Regions from separate parts of the Homo sapiens genome. Here region 1 is linked to region 2. Evidence: fine-mapped expression QTL. A gene starts in region 2. The other region holds a variant in brackets. All regions are shown on one strand. Distances are from middle to middle.

What was found. PIP is the estimated chance that this variant, and not a neighbour inherited with it, causes the effect.
Region 1: its variant is the best candidate, but not a certain one, in a credible set for the expression of EHBP1 in esophagus mucosa (GTEx, PIP 0.70).

What each region holds. Positions count from the first base shown.
Region 1 is chr2:62,461,769-62,466,156 of GRCh38, reverse strand. LOC105374764 (a long non-coding RNA gene) reads right to left here. Exons shown (of 6, transcript XR_002959390.2): 5 at 2,839-3,120; 6 at 2,090-2,318. It also overlaps a transcript of TMEM17 not described here. Among named protein-coding and RNA genes, the nearest start is that of TMEM17, 42 kb to the left of the region's middle. The variant G/A (reference allele first, on the strand shown) is at 2,378.
Region 2 is chr2:62,703,399-62,707,786 of GRCh38, reverse strand. EHBP1 (EH domain binding protein 1) reads right to left here and starts at 2,074. Exons shown (of 23, transcript NM_001142616.3): 1 at 1,735-2,074; 2 at 492-890. The coding sequence starts at 595. RefSeq lists silencers at 1,738-1,817, 1,938-2,197 and an enhancer at 2,228-2,367.

The DNA.
Region 1 (4,388 bases), 240 kb after region 2:
AAAACTTTTCAGAAGGTTTCCTCTCTCTCAGATCCTTTGTCCTTTATCAATGACAAGGGAGCTCTGCAGGGTAGTGGGGACCCCTCCTGATTTGGGCCTTTCTGAAAGGCAGGAACTTCTTGAGTTCTGTTGTCCCTTTTGAACAAAGGTACTTCCTACTGCCTTTCTCCAACTAAAACTGGCTCTCCAGTTTGGCATTTGAGGCCTTTCCTGCCTCATGTCCCATTATTTCCCTATTTTAAAAAAATTAAAAGACTTCTGCTTTTGCCTGTCTGGTCAACTTACGCCCCCTACCCACCTAAACGTACTGGGTACCTTTCCACATCTAAGTATCTGCTGTTGCTAGTCCTCCTGTTTTTGAATGGATTGCCCTTTACTTTACCTGCCACCCTTACTATTTTTCAAGTCAAATAACAAAAATAATAGAGGGTCAAACTTCTTGAGCATTTATGGGGCTTTAAAACAAACTTCTTGAGCACTTACTGTGTCAGTGCTAAGCACCTTATTTATATGTGTCATCTCTTTTACTCCTCACAAAATGCTGAGTCTTTTTTTTTTTTAATATAGACAAGGTCTCACTATGCTGCCCATCCTGAGCTCAAGCGATCCTCCTGTCTCAGCCTCCCAAAGTGCTAGGATTACAGGCCTGAGCTACTGTACCCGGTTGCTGAGTCACTTTTTAAGAAACTTTTCATTTTGAAGTTTTAGACTTACAGAAAAGTTGGAAAAATAGTACAGAGTTCTGTGTACCATTCCCCTAATGTTAACATCTTACACAAATATAGCACAATTATCAACACCAGGAAATTAATATTGGTACAATACTATTAACTCATACCTCCACAAATTTCTGATGTTTTTCTCATGATTATGAAACTGCCATTGCAAAATTATAACTGAGGCGGTGAAAGAGATCTGACCTAACCAACTCCATCTTGCTTCTCACTTCCAAGCTGTCCTTGTTCATTCCTAATTGTAGGCCTCACCGACTTTGGGAGGAACTTAGTTTATAGTTTAACTCTGAAACAAAGACCCATAACAGCCCTTTCCCAAAACAAATCCCCTCCCTGCCTGGGGACTAGACTGCCCTTGTAGGACTAACAAATTAGCCAAAAGATTAGAAATTATGGCTTAAGAGTCATTCAGCTGGAGGCTACAAGATTCTGACCCTCCCCAAATTGTTCATAGGGATAACATATCTATTGTAAAACCCAAGATCAGCGCTTGAGATATTTGCAGACCCTGCCCTTGATGGATCAGCTGGCACCACCCAGATCAATAAACTGCCTCACTTGATCTACCCCACTCAGGAACTGACTCAGCACAAGAAGATAGCTTCAACTCCCTATGATTTCATCTCTGGCCCAACCAATTAACACTCCTGACTCACTGACCCCTGTCCACCAAATTATCCTTAAAAACTCCGATCCCTGAATGCTCCGGGAGACGGATTTGAATAATAATAAAACTCCAGTCTCCCACACAGCCGGCTGTACGTGAATTACACTTTCTCTGTTGCAATTTCCCTGTCTTGATAAATCGGCTCTGTCTAGGCAGCAGGCAAGGTGAACCCATTGGGCAGTTACAGTTAGATGGAGGTTATGCACTTTTGGCAAGAATACCACAGAAGTGAAGTTTTGTCTTTCTCGGTATGTCATACTGATGAAGCAGGATACTTCCCTGACCCCTCTGTGGGACTCGTGACAGGGGTGCCTTGTTTACTCAGCCCGCTGCGCTCAACTCCTCACAGGAGGTAGCACACAAGTGAATGAGGTGGGAACTGGAGTGCACGAGTGCTGGAACTGCCGGCTGCTTTGGTGCCAGTAGGAGGGCCCTGCAGCAGCATCCAGATGGGGGCTGTGACCCCCAAAAGCCCCACAGGGCGTGTTACAGTGCTCTTTTAGCTCTGCTGTCCACAGACAGCTTAAGTTTTAACAGCTCAGTGGGCCCTTTACCTCGTCGCATGGGGCAGCTGCCCTCCACCAGTGAGGGCAAAGGGCCAGTGTGGCAGCCTTTCATATCCACACCTGTGGCCCCTGAGCTCTTGTCCGGTGTCCAGGAATAATGAAGTCACATGAACACATTGAAAGGTGGTAAATGTGGAGGATTTTATTGCCAATAAAAGTGGCTCTCAGCGGGAAGGGAAGCTGAAAAGGGGATGGGGGGGTAGGTCATCTTCTTCTGAAGTCTGGCCGTCTCCAGTCAGATTCTTCTCCTAAGTTACACCATCAAGCTGCACCTCTGAAGTTAAGCTGCTTCTCTCTGACGTCCAGCCATAGTCCTGATGTCCCGCTGCTTCTCCTCTCTGCCAGCTGAGTCTGGAGTTTTTATAGGCACAGGATGGGGTGGGGCAGGGCCATGGGTGATTTAGGAAAAC[G/A]CAACATTTGAGTGGGAAAACAGGAATAGAAATTCTCACTTTGGGCCATGGTTTCAGGCTTTTCAGCTTGAGGGTGGGGTTTTCGCTGGGACCCGCTCTTTTCTGCCTAGAATTTCTCTGCCTCCTGTCCCTATCACTAGCAGGTACCTCATGCTGATTTGTCTTACTACAGGTTGTGTCAACCTTGATCACTTGATTAAGGTGGTATCTGGTAGGATTCTCCATAGTAAAATTATTGTTTTTCTTTTCATAACTGGTAAGCACCCTGAGGGAGATACTTTGAGACTATGAATAGCCTATTTCTTCTCTAACTCCTGTCCACTGAATTTAGATCCACCAGCAGATCTTGCCTGCAGTAGTTATTACTATAATGTTGGTCTAATGGTGATTTTGTATTTTACGAGGGTCCCTGTTTTCCCCACTTTATAGACAAGATACTACAGCTCAGATCTGTAACTTACCTGAGGTCCCAATGCTAATAATTGGCAGAGTCAGAACTCAGGCACCAAAGCCTCTGACCCTAAGCCCTTTACTCTTGCGGTGGGGAAATGAACTATATACTGTCTCATGGCACCTCTTGTCACCACTTGATTTTCCTGTGTGTGATCTTCTCCCCCAGACACACAGTTTCTGGAGGGCAGGGACTGGCTCCTATTTGATTCCCCAAGGCTGCTCCAGGCAAGGTCTGGTGTCCCATAAGTGCTTGTGGACTGACTGGTAGCTGGAAGGATTGAAAAGGCCACCTGTGTTGAGAGGAGGAGGTAGAAACTAAAGAATATCCAGCTTCTTTCCTTTTTCCCAGCCCACAAGGTCACAAGGAAAGAGGTGGGGACATACCCAAGTCCGGACAGAGGAAAAATGTGGGCAGGGCCTCTGCAGAGGGGCAGAGGGCTCAGGAGGGCAGATACCAGCTGGATAACGAGTGGGAATGGGTGGGAGAAAGTTTCAGAGAAAAGGTAGAGAAAGGAGGAGGGACCATCTTATCTAGTTTATCATTTTACAGGTGAGGAGGCCAAGACCACGTTCTAGGGCTTTATTGATTATAATCAGACCCTCAAGTGCAAAGTAGGGTTTATTGAAAGTATTCAGGGAAGGAGTTCACTGCAACTCATTGGTAGGAAATGTAGCCTCGAGGGGCCTTTTCAGCTCAAGTGCTTCCCCTGATTACCAGTGTTTCTGTGTCTCTAAATTCACATTTATCTATAATTCAAATACTGAGTACCTTCCATGGGGTAGCACTGTACTGGGAATGAAATTGTAAGCAAAAGCAGAGGTCACCTTAGCCCAGTGGGGAGGGGTGGATTTTTCTTCTCATCTGTCTTCCCTGCGGCCTATGGGTGGGGTAGACCAAGCCAGAATGGGAAGCCAAAGGGACAAGTGCACAGTCCAGAGAGGGTCAGTGACTTGTTCAAAGTCACACAAGGCTGGAACTTGGGTCCTGCAGTGCTGGTTTCAGGGCTCTTCCTGTGCTCAAACATGTTCCTCATTCATCTTTACTTACTTTTTGATGCAGGGAGTGGAGGGTGGGGTGGCCTGAGACCCCTATGGCGGCAAAGGGAGGTCAGAGAGTGTGATGTGGGTGTTTATGGAGATGCACTTGAGTGCAGGACTGGGGCACGGGCTGGGACCAGGGCTAAGGGTGACAGCTAGGCCTACCGGAGGGGTACTGGATGGAGGAGAGAATTGTTCACAAGGAAGCCACAGGCTGAAAACACTGAGAAACAGCCTCCAGGGGCCAGCTGCAGACTTCAGTTTCCAATTCCTGAATTCACCTCTTCTACAGTAATGCCAGCCCACTGGCCTGACTGCCAGGGCCGAATGCCCAGGACCTAGACTTTGGTCTGCACAGTCAGAGGAAAGAGAGCAGGGCAGCAGTGTTGAGTGGAGTGACTAACTCTGGATTAGCAGTGATCCTGGGCTCTCAGCCCAGCTCGGCCATTACAGGCAGTATCTTCACCTGTCAGGCTCTGGTTTACTCACTGGATGCAAAATGAAGGTGTGGGGCTGCTTC
Region 2 (4,388 bases):
AAATAATGAAAAATTCTTTATCCTAAGCAAGGAAAAATGAAAAAACAAAAATAAAATAGATTACCATCACCCCACAAGAATATAGACTTCTATATTAAAACTCTATTAAATCATATGCCTGTTATATTAAAATATACGGATTAATGCTCACAATATTTCAGTAGCCATTCTTTGTCTCCTTAAAATTACAAAAATCAAAGTTATTTTAACACTAATGATGAATAACCTCAAAACCAAATCTATTGTATTTAGTGTGCTCTCACAGTTACAGTCCTCTGAGCCATACTGAAGCGCAGTAATTAAAATCCACAGGGATGGTACTAGCAGCAACAGTGCACAGCACAGTACTTGTTAGAGTTATCTGCGCCCCACCCAGCTTCTACACACTAGTGCACTATAGAAAGGTAAATATACTATCAGAAGACCCAGAGTTTAGGCCACAGTATGCTTAGGCCACAGCACAGCAAAATCTACCTCCAGGTACATCTTACCATTTCTTCGTACACTCAACCATGAGCTCCTGGTAGGAGGCCACAAACTGGAACTTGGATGCATGTTTTCCCACACGCTGCAGTCTCTTCCAAACTGAAGCCATGATGATCAGTCAAGACACTGGAGCAGTTCTGGGTTAGCAATACAGCAGCTTTAATAATGCAGAGGGTCCAAAGCAAAGGAACTTTGCATGTATGTCTTTTAAAAACTCAACTACAACTCGAAATGATGCTTGGGGTCCATAAGTCTTCTCCCTGTTTCACAGGGTAAATCCCATCTTAGATGAATGGCCCAGTCAAGAACACTATGATATACGTGACAGGATGAGTGGGAAGGGGTTCCCTCATGGAGACATCACCATGCCACCTCAGGGGCTATATGATGGGTATTCTGGAGGGCTGAAAAGCAAAACAAAGACAAAAAGAGAAAGAATATGAGGAGAGAATCATGAGAAATGACTAACCACCCATGTTAAATAACGCTGCAAAAGACCATCCCAGTTCTCTGCATGTCTTTTAAACAATGAAACAAAACACTGACCTCAAAAGCCAGTAACATCAAGGATGCAAGACACCAAGGAAGAAATTACAATTCACACCGAAGACGTGGAGCGACACATCAGGTAGTCAGCACCAACAACAATCCAGAGAGACGGTAACTCGGGGCCCTACCTCCCCCTGTTAGCATCACTGAAGGGCGAGCAGAGCGGGAAAGTCTAGGGATGCTGTTTAATGTCCACCGCCAGAAAGAGGGAGAAGTGGAGTATTTTTTAATAAACTTTGTTTTTCAGTCGATAATTAATAGCCTCAAGTCCGACAATATGTGCTTGGAACAAATTAGGGAGCCAGGAGGAATGCTATTTTTCAGTCGGAGGGAGGAAATGGATGGGGAACGAGGAGTGGAGGGAAATCTCCAGGCAGAGAGAGGGCAATGTCCCGGCTCCAGGCCACTTGGGCTCCTTCGCTGCCAACCGGAGGGAAATGGAAACTCCTGCCTGGGGGTGAAGCAATGACCAGCGGGGCAAGTGGACTGTGCAGGGTGCGGTGCCTCCCTCCCCCATCCTCAGGGAAACAGTCCGCCGGAGCCCAGTCTCCTCACGCACGGAGCCCAGACCCCTGCCCCCCAGCGGAGACAGGCGGTGGCTCGTCCGCGGTCCCTGTCACCCAGGCGATACCAGAAGACCCCAGCCCGGACCCCGAGCCCCGGCCCCGCCGCTCGTCCACTCCCGCCCCCTCCTCACACCTCTAATCCCGCTGTCGGGCTGAGTCTGGCCCCGTTCCCTTCTCATAGCCGCTCCTCCGTCGCCGCCGCAGCAGCAGCCGCCGCCGCCACCGAGTCCTCCATCCCCGCCGGAGCCACATGGAACAGCCAAGCCAGCCACGGCGCTCGCGGTAGCCGGGATCTGCAGCCCCTCAGGCGGACGGCGCCCCTCACGCCCACCCCCTCCCTGACAGATCGCCCCGCGACCGTCCCCCACCCTACCAAGCCCTGCCAGAGCCACCGCTCAGCGCCCAGCACCCCCTCCCCCGCCTTTCTCCTCCGCCACCATCATCATTACCTCCCCCGCCGCACCTCTCACACTAACCCTACCCACGGCAGCTCAACCTCCACCGCCCCGCCGCCATTGGCCAGGCCCCGCGCGTGCCCCGCCCACCTCGGCGGCCGGGTCTTACAGCGGCTGGGGCACCTCATTGGTAGAACTGCCTGCCCATCACAGGGGCTCCGCCTTGCCCTTGCTCGGGAGGTGGTTTTTCCCCGAAGCCGGAATGCGACGCACAGGCTACCTTTTTTTTAAAAAAAAAAAGAAGGAACCGACTAAGGACGATCCCGCCCGTTCTTCTGATTGGCTTGGAGAGGGAAGCGATAGGCGGGAGGAATAGGGAGTGTTTATAGTGAACTGCAAGGTGATTGCAGAAGGTGGCTGTCCGTCAAAGGCGCCGCTGGTGCGGGGCTGGGTTTCTGGCCCCTAAGGGTGATTGCAGACCTAGAGATTGGCTTCGCTGCAGCTGTGGGCAGTGCAGCTGCCTGTGGGTTTCTCTCCTGTTCTCATCTCCGCCAGGACCTGGGCGCGCCCTCTCCTCCGCCACTGGCAACTAGGGTTTTTGCGCATAGCCTTTATTTCACCAGTTCCTCCTGGGATCTTACCTGACAACCTGAAGTAATGACCCTGTCAGGCACCCCCCGACACCCCGGCCGCTCCCCGCCCAACATAGAGTCAACTGGTCTTCAGTGGGATTGAATCAGCTGAGCTAGACACAAAATGTGTACAGTACAATTTCTTATTGTTCGGAGTCTTCAACATTTCTTTGAATCTTGGTTTCCTCTTCGCTGTCGGACTCTTTTGCCCCTAGTGAGAACTGTAGATGGATTTGGGAACAGCTAGCATATAAAAAGGGTGGTCAAAGGCAAAAAGGAGGAGGCAGAGTGAGGGCAGGGACACTCAATCTTGTTAAAAGAGCCAAGGGCCCTTTTGAGAATATGAAAGCTACAGATACTTTCTCAAGGGGGAAAAAGTGTTCTGTCTCAAAACACAAAAAATTGTTTTCAGTTTTAGGTGGTTCACAGACCCCTGGTGTGGAGAAAGAGGACAAAGAATGAAACTTCAGGGGAATCCTAGCATCTAAGGAATAAACAGAGTAAAATGGGAAAGAGACCGAGAAGGAATAATCAGAGAAGTAGGCGCATCAGCAAGCTATGGGCAGACAGTTTGGAAAAAAAAGAGAGGCAAGCTAACATAAAAAGAAAGCAAGCGGGATGGGTTCTGGAAACAAGGATCATTCAATCTTACGAAGGTTGGAAAGCAGGGTGCATGGACAAAGTAGCTTGAAAGGTGTTAGGGTCTAGGGAGGATTCTTTCAGGGACAGGAAGAGAGAGCAGTGATGGGTGAGAATTGAGTCCATCTGTAGACATTGGGGGCCAAGACAAAGTGGAGAGACATGTTGAAGAATCAAGAGAGATGGGGAGACAGATATAAGGCTTGAATCCAGTATCTAATTCAATTTCCACTTTCAATAAAGAAAATGATCTAATAATACAAGAGCACAGTGTGCATTTTACAGAAAACAGCATAGTTATCGCTTATTTTGCTAGTCAATTCTAAAATGTTAAGATAATCGTAATAATCATATTGATTCTTATTTTCTATTAAGAGTTCTCTGATGTCCTTCCTGAGTGGTTTACGAAGTCACTACAACCTACAGCCATTATGATCTCATATAATAATATATTCTGCATCTTTAGTAGGCTTTAAGTGTGTGGAGTTTTTTAATGGCTTATTTGTAGAAATGGTCATAAATTATTTTCATCCAAGTTACCCTTCAGAAACAATCCACATGATGATCAGAAGGTTTTTGCACCCTATTTATTACTGTTCTCTGGAAGTTCTCAAACTTTCTTATGTGGTCATTCTGGTTTCTTTTAACATGCTTCCCTTACTCCAAAGGGAGAGGGGGAAGAGAGAAAAAATAGAGAGACTGACTTTATTGTAAAGAAATTCCCTTAAAAGTAATAAGTTTTAAATGGTGTCTTAAAAAAAAATAAAGGAGTAGGATCCCTAGGGAATCTTCCTCAAGTTGTGGAAAATTTCAAGAGACTGATAGTTTCTTATGACAGCTCTTCTTTTTAGGGGAAATATTTGTCTTGGATGTAAACTCTTATTTTTCCTTCTAGACACCAAGGTAGCTAAGAAGAGATCAAAGTTAGAATCGTTTACTAAATGAGTGAAGGAATTAAGAACAGCTCTTGACCCTGTTCTGCCACTGACCTCATGTTCATAGGCTGTCTCCTGGAGGCCCTACAGAGCAGCTACTTCTTCCCCCTATAACATTTTAAAAAACAACCTGTATACTAACTAAATTTATTGAAGAATATTAAATATAGAATATGTTCAGCTCTT